2 linked regions of the Homo sapiens genome follow. The protein of the gene in region 2 interacts with the protein of the main gene of each other region in a pairwise test. Each region holds a gene or a part of one and is shown on either strand. Other genes may lie near its edges.

Evidence for each region.
Region 1: the proteins of VMP1 (region 2) and SLC39A9 interact in binary tests that used the Homo sapiens proteins (3 or more experiments, as listed by UniProt).

What each region holds. Positions count from the first base shown.
Region 1 is NC_000014.9:69,401,226-69,408,793, forward strand, and holds part of SLC39A9 (zinc transporter ZIP9), read left to right. Parts: intron 1-7,568. UniProt on the Homo sapiens protein: Transports zinc ions across cell and organelle membranes into the cytoplasm and regulates intracellular zinc homeostasis. Participates in the zinc ions efflux out of the secretory compartments.
Region 2 is NC_000017.11:59,808,225-59,815,792, reverse strand, and holds part of VMP1 (vacuole membrane protein 1), read right to left. Parts: intron 6,998-7,568; coding exon 6,917-6,997; intron 4,124-6,916; coding exon 4,007-4,123; intron 1-4,006. UniProt on the Homo sapiens protein: Phospholipid scramblase involved in lipid homeostasis and membrane dynamics processes. Has phospholipid scramblase activity toward cholesterol and phosphatidylserine, as well as phosphatidylethanolamine and phosphatidylcholine.

The DNA of each region.
Region 1 (7,568 bases), on a different chromosome or scaffold from region 2:
ACCAGTATTTCCTAGAGGCAAAGGTTGGGTCGGGCTGAGTAGCAGCTGTTAGGCACAGTCCTCCTTGCCCTTGAAGCCTGTTTCACTTATTTGGGTTACCTGCCTGCCCAGTACTTTGTGAACCTGCTATGTTTCCTTTGACATAACCATATTTTCTTATAACTATATTAGAATTGAATTGACATTAGTAGGGCTGACATGTGTGAGATTTGGGTTGGTTTGTGTATTTTTAAACATATTGAAGTAACATTTATGAATAATCATAATTAATTCTGATAAGCAACCAGTAAAACTTTTTATTTCTATAAAATGCCTTTAACTTTACCAATTCCAGTATTTTTTCAAACTACCTTGAATGATTATTGCAATATGCGGATATATACTATTTCCTTTTTCACTAGAAGGAAATGTTTACAGGAGTGGTGTTAATAACTGGGTCATTAATACAGATAATTAGTATGTCATGTCATTTGTGGCTTTCTTAAATTGACGGTCAGATGGTCTTTTCCAGCTGTAGGTCTTAAAATGCTAAAATCAGCATTCATAATATCTGTTTATTATTAGAGTAGATGCAATGCATTTTGAGCTATTAGAATAAAAAATGAAAGTTATATATAACTTAAAGACATCCTAGAATTCAACTAGGATTTCTATCTCCTAGGAACTAAACATATTTTCTAGGTAAATTATGCCATTATTATGGACCAATGTTGTAATGAAACTAGTGAGATGGTAAATTTGTAAAAATAAATTTCATTCACGGGGGACTGGAAAGCACCATTTCTTTCCTTAGAAAATAATTCCCCAAACTCCTACACTGGATAAATGACTTGCCTTTTTAAGGAAGTCTGGCTTTCTTAGAGGCTAGTGTTACTGTTTTACAGTTCACTTTCGTTTACATCAGGGGTGTCCAATCTTTTGGCTTCCCTGGGCCACATCAGAAGAAGAATTATCTCAAGCCACACATAAAATACACTAACACTAAGATAGGTGATGAGCTAAAAAAAAAAAATGCAAAAAAAAACTCATAATGTTTTAAGAAAGTTTATGAATTTGTGTAAGGCTTCATTCAAAGTGCTCCTGGGTTGCATGCGGCCCACGAGCCATGAGTTGGACAAGCTTGATTTACATGAAAAGATATGCTTTTTATTCATGTTTTTAATCTTGCTGCTGCTTTCTCATTCAATACTTTTTCTAAAAATATCTCAGAACAGGAATAAAAGTCAGATGATCAATTATGGCAAGATTAGTATTTAAAAACGAGTTAAAATTAGGTAGTCTGAAATTGCAGTAGTGGTGGGGTCTACCTGCCAGATGTGCCCACCAAGAGGTTTATGTGACATTGATTTCTCTGTCAGTTTCTCCTCACCCCAAAACTACCTTTCTTGATACTTTTGTGGCCTTCTTCCTTGCCCTTTGACCTGGCAACTGTACTTTCATGCCTTAAAAATTTATAAAACAAAGGAAAAAAAATCCGATTCTCAAATGCAATTATAAGTAACTATGATAATCAGGATGTAAATTTTTTCAGTATACAGGAAAGAGAAACACTTTTAACTTTTAAAGGAGGCCAGCCAGGTGCTAAGTGGCTCACGCCTGTAATCCCAGCACTTTGGGAGGCTGAGGTGGGCGGATTACCTGAGGTCAGGAGTTCGAGACCAGCCTGGCCAACATGGCGAAACCCCATCTCTACTAAAAATACAAAAATTAGCTGGGCGTGGTGGCATGTGCCTGTAATCCCAGCTACTCAGGAGGCTGAGACAGGAGAATTGCTTGAACCCAGGAGGCGGAGGTTGCAGTGAGCCGAGTCCCACCATTGCACTCCAGCCTGGGGAACAAGAGCAAAACTTTGTCTCAGAAAAAAATAAAAATAAATAAATAAAAATAAATAAATAAAGGAGGCCAAAGCATGCTTTACACAAAGGAAGCCCTGTTTGGTAAGGGAGTGAGACCCGTTGGTTTATAGTTAACACTGTCTTATGTTTTTTCGATTGAATTGCTAATGAGTAGTTTTCTTTGGCTCTAAATAACAATGTTACATAAGTAGGTTGAGAGCCTATATTACCTAGTATAAACTCAGTGCTGCTGCAGTTGATAAATGGAGCTATGATACAAAAACAGATGGCTCAAGTGGGATTTCAGATTGATTATCTGAGGGTTGTTACTCACCTGAGTATGTCTCCTCTTTGTCACAGAGCTGGTAACAGAGAGCAAGCTGTTTTTGGCTCAGAGCTCTACAGCAATATTCCTCAAACTGCCTGGTAAAGGATCAGTTTTTGTTTTTAATTTTTATTTCAATCCATACCAATACACTTATAAAAATGAAATAGTAGGAAAATGAAGTGAAAAAAAGACATAGAAAATACAAGCCCAAATGTATTGTTAAATTCAACAGATAAAAAATTACTACTATAATTGTAATAATCATATTGCTCTAAAAATTTCTGAAGGCTTTATCTCAGTTGCCATACTTTTCTTATTGCAGACCAGTTTGAGTTATAATGCCACATTTTTCATGTATTAAAACAGCAAAGCAGGCCAGGCGTGGTGGCTCACGCCTGTAATCCCAGCACTTTGGGAGGCCGAGGCAGGCGAATCATCTGAGGTCGGGAGTTCGAGACCACCCTGACCAACACGGAGAAACCCTGTGTCTACTGAAAATACAAAATTATTTGGGCGTGGTGGCACGTGCCTGTAATCCCAGCTACTTGGGGGGCTGAGGCAGGAGAATCGCTTGAACCTGGGAGGCGGAGGTTGCAGTGAACCAACATTGCGCCATTGCACTCCAGCCTGGGCAGCAAGAGCAAAACTCCCTCTCAAAAAAACAAAAAACAAACAAACAAAAACAGCAAAACTGGATGTAGTGGCACACACTGGTTAGTCCCAGCTACTCCAAATGCTGATGTGGGAGGATCACTTGAGCCCAGGAGTTCAGGGTTGCAGTGAGCTATGAGTGTGCCTGTGAATAGCCACTGGCAACATAAGGAGACCTACTCCCTAAAATAACCAACAGCATAAATCCATAAGTTGGCAGATGAAAGTAGTGCTATTCTTAGGATGATTTTAAAGATGAATATGATTAATAATGCACTGATTTCAAAAGGGACTGTCTGAGACAGTATCATTCAAAGTCAATGTTACTACTTGAACAAGCTATTAAAATCCAAATCTCTTCTGTTAAATGACCTTCTAGGATTGTTGTGAGGTTGAAATAATATAAGCACAGGCTTAACACTATGTCTAGAACATAATAAAAACTTTCAAAAATATTGAGGCAGATTCTCAATACTGATTAGAAAAACTTGTAAAGATTTTCATTTTTATAACTTTGTTCTAATTTATAATTGTTAAACCTTTTATTTGGAAACAGACTTAATAATGGGAAGCTCCTCCCCCTCCTCCCCTTCGCAGTCATGGAAACTTCTCGGCAATTTGTTTGGAATCCAAAGGTCTTGTTGTGGGGTTTGGTTTGCATTACTATTTACCATTCTATTTGGAGAGGCCAGGGCTTTTCCTCTACCCTCCCTGCTTTATACTATTTTTCTTAGTATTTAACTCTCTTTTCTTCATTATACTTACTCTCATTTTAAGCTTTGTTTTGTTCTTTCGTGTTTTAAAGTTTTGTGTCTGTATTAGTCCATTCTTACACTGCTAATAAAGACATTTCTGAGACTGGGTAATTTATAAACGAAAGAGGTTTGATTGACTCACAATTCAGCATAGCTGGGGAGGCCTAAGGAAACTTACAATCATGGCAGAAGAGGAGGCAAACACATCCTTCTTCATGGGGCGGCAGGATGGAGAAGTGCTGAGCAAAAGGGGGAAAGCCCCTTATAAAACCATCAGATCTCGTGAGAACTCACTGTCACAAGAACAGCAAGAACTCACTATCACAAGAACAGCATGACCTCCCACCAGGTCCCTCGCATGGGAACTACAACTCAAGATGAGATTTGGGTGGGGACACAACCAAACCATATCAGTGTCTGATTATAATAACTGACTCATTCATAATAAGTATCTTTAGGGGTTTGAGTTACCCGCAAATCAAAGGTTTATTGTGTCTGAAGAACAGATTTATTCAGTATGCTTCTGCCTCTACAATAGGTTCTCTTTGAAGTAGATTTAACAATGTTACATTTTTAAGGACTTTTATATTGTCTGGTACATTGCTCTTACCCTCTTATGGTAATACAAGAGATTTTATACCTGTTTGGAATTTCATTTGTAAATTCTAAGATTTGAGCCGGGCATGGTGGCTTATACCTGTAATCCCAGTGCTTTAGGAGGCTGAAGCTGGAAGTTTGCTTGAGGCCAGGAGTTTGAGACCAACCTGGGCAACAAGTGAGACCCTGTCTCAGATGAATGAACGTAAATTATAAAATTTTAAACTTTGCAATCTCAGTAAATTTATCCATATCTGGAAAGAAATCATCAGCTTGTCTTTTCTCAGATTGAACTACAGATTATTGTTTCATAAGGATCCTTGATAAAACTAAGTTTGGATCAAATAAAATCCGGTTGCAATATGATTCAATATTATTTTCCTGAAAAACTTTGTTTTCTCCAGGATACTATATTGATAAACATAATTAAGACTTATCTGCATAATAATATTAATAATGTTTATTGAGCTCTTTCTGTATACCAGGCAATGATATGCACTATCTTATTAATCCTCAGGACCAAGACTATGAGATACTGTTAAACCTCACTTTACAAATGAGCAAACTCAGGCTTGAAGAGGTCACAGACTCTGGTAGAGGTGTGATTTGGAACTAAGTCATTTTGATTCCTGTTGCCAAATCAGTCACTTGACTACTAAATGTTGCCTTTCCTAATGAATGCTGTGTAAAGAAGGAATGAAAATAGGATCTACCTAAATTGATGCCTTTAGCTCCCCAAATTAGGAACATCTTTCATACCTTCCACAGTATATCTCATGCTTTCTGCCTAGTCAGTGGAGTAGAACTTGAAACTCCAGAGGTAAACAGTCTCCAAATACCATTGAAACCTATAAGAAATAAGTTAATATGTCTTAGATGCCTTTTAAATTAACACCTGCCAATTTGGAATCTGAAGTAGTTCCTATTGTGAACTATCCAAGATGAATTTCACACTTGACATCCTCACAGGTTAGTCGTAAATTGTGCTGTTCAAGAAGTGACATCCTTTTCAAGAGAAGATGACATGAAATGGATTCAGAATGTTTCTGTATATGATAGTCTTAACCTCTCCTCTAATTAAAGAATTTAATGATGAGACTTTTGTTGAATGATAAGATCCCCTTCAGCTCAGTATGGAATTCCACACTGGGCTGAGCGCAGTGGCTCACGCCTGTAATCCCAGCTACTCGGGAGGCTGAGGCAGGAGAATTGCTTGAACCTTGGAGTCGGAGATTGCAGTGAGCTGAGATTGTACCATGGCACTCCAGCCTGGGCAACAGAGCGAGACTGTCTTAAAAAAAAAAAAAAAAAGTAGTAGTACTAAGTATGAGTACTGGTATTTCTTAAAACCTATAATGAAATTACAGAAATCTCAGTCTTCCTTGAATACTAATATTCAGTTTTTAACTTATTGAAATAAAATGGAAATAAATATTAGTTAGACTGGAAATTCTTTGTTTTTTTTTTTTTTTTTTTTGAGATGGAGTCTTGCTCTGTCGCCCAGGCTGGAGTGCAGTGGCGTGATCTCAGCTCACTGCAACCTCCCCTTCCCAGGTTCAAGCAATTCTCCTGCCTCAGCCCCCCCAGTAGATGGGATTACAGGTGCGTGCCACCATAACCAGCTAATTTTTTGTATTTTTAGTAGAGACAAGGTTTCACCATGTTAGCCAGGATGATCTGGATCTCCTGGCCTTGAGATCTGCCTGCCTCGGCCTCCCAAAGTTCTGGGATTACAGGCATGAGCCACCACACCCAGCCCTGGAAATTCTTACATGGAAATTCATTTTTAAATGAAAAGGTCTTGAGGGTAACTAATAGATAATTACATCAAACTATCTATTGCAAACCCTGTATTTATCTGACGTTAATTTCCTTCCTTCCTTTCTTTCCTTTCCTTCCTTCCCTTCCTTCCCTTCCTTCCTTCCTTCCTTCCTTCCTTTCTTCCTTCCTTTCTTCTTTCCTTCCTTCCAAATTTCACTCTTGTTGCCCAGGCTGGACTGCAATGGCATGATCTTGACTCACCATAACCTCCGCCTCCCAGGTTCAAGTGATTCTCCTGCCTCAGCCTCCCAAGTAGCTGGGATTACAGGCATGCACCACCACGCCCCACTAATTTTGTATTTTTAGTTAGAGACAGGGTTTCTCCATGTTGGTCTCAAACTCCTTACCTCAGGTGGTCTGCCCGCCTAGGCCTCCCAAAGTGCTGGGATTACAGGCGTGAGCCACTGCGCCCGGCCAATTTTCTTTCTTTTTTTTTTTATTTTGAGACAGAATTTTGCTGTTGTTGCCCAGGCTGGAGTGCAATGGCACGATCTCGGCTCACTGCAACCTCCTCCTCTCAGGTTCAAGAGATTTTCCTGCCTCAGCCTCCCAAGTAGCTGGGATTACAGGCGCCTGCCACCATGCCTGGCTAGTTTTGTAGTTTTAGTAGAGACAGGGTTTTTCCGTGTTGGTCAGGCTAGTCTTGAACTCCCGACCTCAGGTGAATCCGGCCTCCCAAAGTGCTGGGATTACAGGCATGAGCCACCGCACCCGGCCCTGCTATTATATTCTTTACGGTTCTCTCTTAGTCAATTCCTCATCATTCTAGTCCCCTTTTATGCTTTTATAGGTATTCCTTTTTTCTTTCTTTCTTATTTTGAGATGGAGTCTTGCTCTGTTGCCCAGGCAGGAGTGCAGTGGTATGATCTTGGCTCACCACAACCTCTCTCTTTGGGTTCAAGTGATTCTCCTGCCTCAGCCTCCCAAGTAGCTGAGATTACGGCTGCCTACCAACACGCCCGGCTAATTTTTGTATTTTTGGTAGAGACAGGGTTTTGCCATGTTGGCCAGGCTGTTCTCAAACTCCTGACCTCAGTTGATCAGCCCGCCTTGGCCTCCGGAAGTGCTGGGATTACAGGTATGAGCCACCATGCCCAGCCCCCTTTTGTAGGTATTCTTTATGTTAAACTTTCTCTCTTCAAATTACTTTATGCTTTCTCTTTGATGAAAGGACCCTGACTGATAGAGGTAGGTAATGGATCATAAAATCAAATAAGGCTGAACAGAGAATTAAGCCTGGAGTAAAATAAGACAGCCCCAGTGTCATGATATATGGCAGCTGACCTTCAGTGTCAGTGCCTGGGAGTCATTAGGGAGAAGTGAGAACTGTGGGCATCTAAAGGGCACATATCATTTGATGACACCAAATCTTCCTATTTTTCCAAAGCTAGAAATCTGGATTTTTATATGAAGTCTCCTGAATTTTATCCTTTGGCTACTTATTCAAATATTGTATCAGTGCGTGGGCCAAACAACCCATGTTTGTGAGTCTACAAGCCTCTAGACTGCCTGATTTCTAAGCCCTCTGAATGTAGAAGGGGTGGGCAAGCAAGTAGAGGAAGTAAGTTACAGCATGGCAGT
Region 2 (7,568 bases):
CCTCCGCCTCCTGGTTCACGTCATTCTCCTGCCTCAGCCTCCTGAGTAGCTGGGACTACAGGCGCCCGCCACCATGCCCAGCTAATTTTTTTGTATTTTTTTTAGTAGAGACGGGGTTTCACCGTGTTAGCCAGGATGGTCTCGATCTCCTGACCTTGTGATCCACCTGCCTCGGCCTCCCAAAGTGCTGGGATTACAGGCGTGAGCCACCGCACCCGGCCAGAAAGAAGAATCTTAAGACAGATTCAGTTATTAAATATTGAGTGCCTACTATCTCCTGGATGCTATTCTAGGCATTATAATACATCAGTGAACCAACAGACAAAAATCTCTGCCCTCCTGGGAGTTTATAATACTGTGTGTGTGCTGGTGAGTGTGAAGGTAGAGAGATAAAGAACAGTGATGTATTTTAAGGGTACAATAAGTAAGTTAAATGGTACATGAAATAACATGAATGAGTATGTTGCTTTTCTTAATTATTTGGGACAAAGGTAATGTCTCTAAGGATACTACTTCTTAAAAAATTTTTTCTAAAAAGATACTCTTCTCATGCCTTTTCCTATCTAAGGATACTTCTACAGACAGAGTACTTGACTCTGTGCAGTGGAAGGGGAAATCTGATCTAACATTATAGGTAGATTGATTTGAATCTTTTAGGGGAAGGTTAAGAGGAAGACATCAATAAAAATAGCAATATTTATTAAAGAAGGTTGTCTAATTTTAAGCTGAGGAAAAAGGGAAGAAAGAAAAGCAGACAAGGAGACAGGTTTACTATTAGGGTAGAAAAAAATCGGTGTGTGTGTGGCTTTCCCACTATTATTTCAGAATGGTTAAAATGTTTATATTACTAATATTGTTTACCCACAGAATGAGAAATGTTTGTTACCCTAAGCTACATCTGGATGTACATCAAGTGACATGCCTTTACAAAGCATGTCACTATGATACGATGGAACACAGCAAACATATCCCACGGTCTTAGTTTAGTGAAGGAACTCAGATTCTTTCCTTTCAGAAACATAAATGGATTTTAGCTTTCTTTTTCTTTTTTGCTTCCACATAGATACAGGGAAAGAGCTTTATCTTTACAGAGCTTGGTTGGATTCTAGGGCCTTAGGCAAGTATTTTACCTTCTCTAACACAGTTCCCTCATCTATGAAATGTGGTTAATAACAACCTCTCAAGATTGTCTGCCATGAGATAACTACTGCAAATTACCTTGCACAGGTCCTGATCAATAGCAGGCATTAAACAATTCAGTTTCCTTAATCATATCAATACATTAAAGTTAAGAAGGCAATGCAAAAGAATGGAAAGAACACTGAACTTGAAGTCAAAAGACTTGGGTTCAAATTCCAGCTGTTACTTACTCTCTTAAGCAACTATTACTTATTAACCTCCCTACCTCTGAGAATTACAAAATGGGTATAGTAATTCCTCTATCCCAGGATTATAAGAATTAAATCATATAGATAAGTGCTTTAAAGTGTGAAGTTCCATAAAAAAATCACTCATCGGCCAGGCGCAGTGGATCATGCCTGTAATCCCAGCACTTTGGGAGGCCAAGGCGGGCAGATCATGAGGTCAGGAGTTCGAGACCAGCCTGGCCAATATGGTGAACCCTATCTCTACTAAAAATACAGAATTAGCTGGGTGTGGTGGCATGCGCCTGTAGTCCCACTTACTCTGGAGGCTGAAACAAAAGAATCGTTTGAACCTGGGAGGCGGAGGTTGCAGTGAGCTGAAATCACGCCACCACACTCTAGCCTGGGTGACAGAGAGAGACTCCATCTCAAAAATCAATCAATCAATCAATCATCATAAATTGAAAAAATCTGAGTATGTTTAAATATATACTAGTTTTAAATCTTTCTGAAATGAAAGGTCTGATAAGTTGCATATCTTACCACTACAGATAGGGTACTTATGGCATAATACGTTTTACTATAATTTATAGAAAGGCACTGCATTCAAGAGGTATAAAGCAGGACACATAAAACTTATGGATTACTAGAGAAGTTCTTGTTATGAAATAAAATAATCTGTTATTTTTCCTTAGGTATTAAGGACTGCAAGAAGCTAAATGACAGCTCTCTTCTAGAAACAACTCTAAAGATTAAAGAAAAACCTATTTTCAGATACATTGAAAATAATTTATTATTCACCATATTTTATTATTTGAAAAAATCCTGTATGGTATTAAATCTTTTTTTTTTTTTTTGAGACAAACTCTTGTTGCCCAGGCTGGAGTGCAATGGCACGATCTCGGCTCACCGCAACCTCCACCTCTCAGGTTCAAGTGATTCTCCTGCCTCAGGCTCCTGAGTAGCTGGGATTACAGGCATGCGCCACCACGCTCGGCTAATTTTGTATTTTTAGTAGAGACAGGGTTTCTCCATGTTGGTCAGGCTGGTCTGGAACTTCCGACCTCAGGTGATCCACCCGCCTCGGCCTCCCAAAGTGCTGGGATTACAGGTGTGAGCCACCGCATCTGGCCAGTATTAAATCTTAACCATAGTAACTAGCACTGTAATATTAAAAAACCTGTGTTCGTTGATTGAACAAAATACTTAATTTAAATGGGAGGAAATATATTCTTTGAAGTAGGAAAAACATCATGAAATTCTGAGTGATTATGGCAGGAAAATAGAGGACAGACGCAATAAACTTGACCCAAATGCCAAAATCTAAGATTATAAACTGGATAAGTAGAAGCAGCCGAAGTTTTCCTGTTTCATTCTTCCCTTCTAAGAACTGGAAGTAGAGAGGTATTAACATAGAAACTTTGGGGATAGACACACTTGTAATTATCATGGAATCATACAAGGGCAGAGAACTTCACTGTTCTTTCCTTTCTTTTTTTGAGACAGAGTCTTGCTCTGTTGCCAGGCTGGAGTGCAGTGGCGTGATCTTGGCTCACTGCAACCTCCACCTCCCAGGTTCAAGAGACTCTCCTGCGTCAGCCTCCCAAGTAGCTGGGATTACAAGCGTGCGCCACCACGCCCAGCTAATTTTTGCGTTTTCAGTAGAGACAGGGTTTCACCATGTTGGCCAGGATGGTCTCGATCTCCTGACCTCATGATCTGCCCACTTCAGCCTCCCAAAGTGCTGGGATTACAGGCGTGAGCCACCACGCTTGGTTGTTCTTTCCTTTCTTTTGGTTAATAACGTTCTTTGTTACAAACCATACTGATATAAAACAAATTCTTTCCAGGTTAATTTTTATTTTATTCTATTGAGATCTGCCCTTAGAAGGAAGTAATTCATATCACAGTTCTAGAAGCACATATCCATTTTCCCTTCGTTTAAATTGTTAACCTTTTCTCTCCTCTCTATTCATATATGTGTGCACACACACATACACATGCACACACCCTCCATCCTAAAGATTTTGTTAAGAGTGGCTTTGAGGACTAGCAGATTCTCACTTCTCTGACCACAACCCACATCTCCTCGCCTCTTCAGAGACCCTCTTCTTCCCCATTCTCCTCCCACACTAACATCTGGCTGTTTTTCGGTAAAGGATATTGGTAACATGGGAGGAACTGCTTTACACACTCTATATATATAGAGTATGTGAAAGAAAGTAAGAATTAGTGAATGGCAATATTCTCTCAGCTTGTGGTTGGTAAAACAAAACAAAACAAACAAAAAACTACATTTTTTGGGCTGTGTATATAAAAATGATGTGCATCTTTCTGCACACAAACACTATTTTTGTTTGGTGAAAGTCCTGGATAAATAGTTAAACAGGACAAAAAATAAAGAAAGAAAGAGAGAAAGGAAGGAAAGAAGGAAGAAAGGGAAGGAGGGAGGAAGAAAGAAGAAAAGAAAGAAAACAAGGAGATCACTAATTCCAAATGACATTCTATGTGGTATTACCTAAGTAAGCTACCAACCAAAAAAGCAGAAAGAATAACTAAATAATTCACTTAGGAATGAGCATGTTTCATTGTCTTGTAATGGGTTCATCATCATTAGGCAGTGAATCAGGGGGTATAATTACCTGGATATGCATTTTTATTATTGCTTTTCCAATTAGGGTTGCACCAAAGAAGGTCCAAAAAGGTACCAGAAAGTGTCCACACGTTATTCCAGCCAGATCAAATAAAGGATTTGGAATCTATAGAGAGAAAAAGAAGGACTTCCATATTATAATCCAAAGAACAATTTAATTTTATCACCCATTGATATGTGGTATTCTGCTTTCAGCCTGCTTACACTGCAAAGCAATATATGGGTTCCTTGATCACTACTGGATTGTTCAAAAGGAGGTTAGGCAAACATCCTAATGTGTCTAGAAGCTGGGTCTCATATTCACCTTAGGTGTTCAATCTGCTCACAGCAAACCAAGGTGTCCTTTTGCTTATATTACTCATGGCTAAGGCACTGTGTGTGTGTTTGTGTGTGTGCCCATCACATGAGAACTGGATAAAGTAAGTGGACCTGCAGGAATTTAATCCCGTTCAGTTGATTCCTGGATATTTGGTGGCTGTTTTCTAAGGTGAGGTATGAGTGAAGAAAGAGCCTTAAGATTGTTTCAGCAGTTAGGGTTCTAAAATCTTTAGCTTGAAATGTGAATATTATCTGGAAAGCACTCATATCATTAGCAAATATTTTAATAAATTCTCAAATACATTTATGGGTGGATGTGCTGTTATTCTCAACATAAAATATTAATAATTTGTATTTTATTTTACGAGAGACCAAGTCTGAGGGCTATGTGACACAATTTATAAAGAAGATCAAGTGTGGAAATATGAGATCACACAGATTCAGATGTTTTGAATACTCAGTCCCAGACAAAGAAGTAATTCACAACAAATACCTTTCCCAAACATTCCCACATTTTAAGAATGCTAAAAGACATTTCATGTAAAAATGCAAAGAAGCCACAAGCTGTTTTTGAGCACTTCATCCCTTCTTCTCCTATGAAAGTACTCTGACCTTGTGGCTGTTGGCTGAACCATTAATAAGCCAATTAATTTATATAATTTCATTTTTGAACTTTGAAAGAAAAGCCTAGTTATTTAAAAAATACTTGTCACATATGATCTTTAAAAAAGACATGACTAAATTAGAATTCAAGTATTCCTTTGTTAGTAACACTTGGATTCAATGACTCATTTTTGTTTTTCTCATCCAAATTCAAATGCTTTAGGATTATTTCATCTCTTACAACCATATAATAATATCATTTACACAGCATCACACCTGCTATTTGTTATATTTGCTCATGTGACTCTCATAATTCTATGAGTTATAACTTTTTTTTCCTTTATCATAAGGTTCCAACTCATGTTGAAATGAAAATGAATTTAAAGTATTTAAGATATGTAGGCTGGGCGCAGTGTCTTATGCCTATAATCCCAGCACTTTGGGAGGCCGAGGTGGGTAGATCACTTGAGGTCAGGAGTTCGAGACCAGCCTGGCCAACATGGTGAAACCTTGTCTCTACTAAAAATACAAAAATTAGCTGGGTGTAGTGGTGCATGATTGTAATCCCAGCTACTGGGTAGCCTGAGGCAGGAGAATCGCTTGAACCTGGGAGGTGGAGGTTGCCGTGAGCCAAGATCTCGCCACTGCACTCCAGCCTGGGTGACAGAGGGAGACTCTGTCTCAAAAAAAGAAAAACAAACACAAAAAAAGGATTTAAGATACGTAAATCAGAGTAGCCCTGAGCTAACATCGCTTTAAACAGGTTTTATATAAATTCTTCCTTGTAACTAATACTTGAAACTTTGGAAAAAGACTTCTTATCTATAAATTTGAGGAAAGAATGAAGTCATCCTTATTTGGTTAAATGTAGTTTAATTTGGTTAAATGTAGTATATTCTTCATTGGAAGAATGGATTTTGTCTCTTTTATTCTTACTGATTTAAGCCATTTAGGTCTGAAGTCATCACTACATGATGAAATACTTAAAAGCCAATAAACAAGATGTGAACCTATTCAACAGAAAACAGCTCATTTAATAAGTTGAATTGGGCTGGGTGCAGTAGCTCACACCTGTAATCCCAGTACTTTGGGAGGCCGAGGCGGGCGGATCACGAGGTCAGGAGATCGAGACCATCCCGGCTAAAACGGTGAAACCCCGTCTCTACTAAAAATACAAAAAATTAGCCGGGCGTAGTGGCGGGCGCCTGTAGTCCCAGCTACTTGGGAGGCTGAGGCAGGAGAATGGCGTGAACCCGGGAGGCGGAGCTTGCAGTGAGCCGAGATCCCGCCACTGCACTACCGCCTGGGCGACAGAGCGAGACTCCGTCTCAAAAAAAAAAAAAAAAAAAAAAAAAAAAAAAAAAAAAAAATTAGCTGGGTGTGGTGGCAGTCGCCTGAAATCCCAGCTACTTTGGGAGGCTGAGGCAGGAGAATCGTTTGAACCCGGGAGGTGGAGGTTGCAGTGAGCCGAGATTGTGCCATTGCACTCCAGCCTGGGCCACAAAAGTGAAACTCTTGTCTCAAAAAAAAAAAAAAAAAAAAAAAAAAAAGTTGAATGGGCCAGGTGTAGTGGCTCATGCCTGTAATCCCAGCACTTTGGGAGGCCGAGGCAGGTGGATCACTTGGGCCCAGGAGTTTGAGACTAGCCTGGGCAACATGAGATCCTGCCTCTACTAAAAATATAAAAATTAGCCAGGCGTGGGGGTGCATGCCTGTAGTCCCAGCTACTAGGGAGGCTGAGACAGGAGAATTGCTTGAGCCCAGGAGATGGAGGTTGCAGTGAGCCGAGATCATGCCACTGCACTCCAGCCTGGGTGACAAGAGGGAGACTCCGTCTTAAAAAAAAAAAAAGGTGAATGATTCACAAAATTACATACCCAATAAAAGTGATAGCACTTTTGTTAATTCAGGAGTATATATGGATCAAAATATAACACTACCACTTAGTAAAAGTTCTGTTTTAATACAATTCACTTACTGAAGCACAGGCCAAAATTCCAAAAAATCCAACTTTCTGTACTAGTTTTTGAACTGCCAGTTTGGCCCGGGAGGCAAAGTCCTGTAAAAAGGCAAATTTAGAAACATTAATGAGAAGTAGGAAAAGAAGGAAAGATGGTTCTTTCTAGAGTTTATTAAAGATCTCCCAATCTGATGACACTGATTAATAAGATGAATGATGAAAAAAATTACAGTAGGTTGTTCACTGAAACACAAGTAAAATAATGATAGACTATTACATCCTTAAAGTTAAGCTCTTACCACATTTTAAGAATAAACCAAAACACTGTAAATTTAAATTTAGTATTCTCTCTGGATATTCTAGGGATTAACAAAATACTGTAAACTAACCATGAACCAATTTATTATTTTGGAAACACTGGCCTACAACATCTACCTTTTCCTTTCTTCTATAATTTGCCAGACTTCATGAATACATCTCTGCCGATCACTAGCCAGAAGATGGAAAAAACAGTTATGTGGCAATAAGTAAGCATTCATTATCCCAGAAGCAAAAGAACATCCTACATTTGCACAGCTTGTGCTAGTTTTGTAAAACATTCTCACCATGATTTTATTTGAGCCTTCGATTCTGGTATGTAGGTATAGTGGATATTATTATAACCAATCTA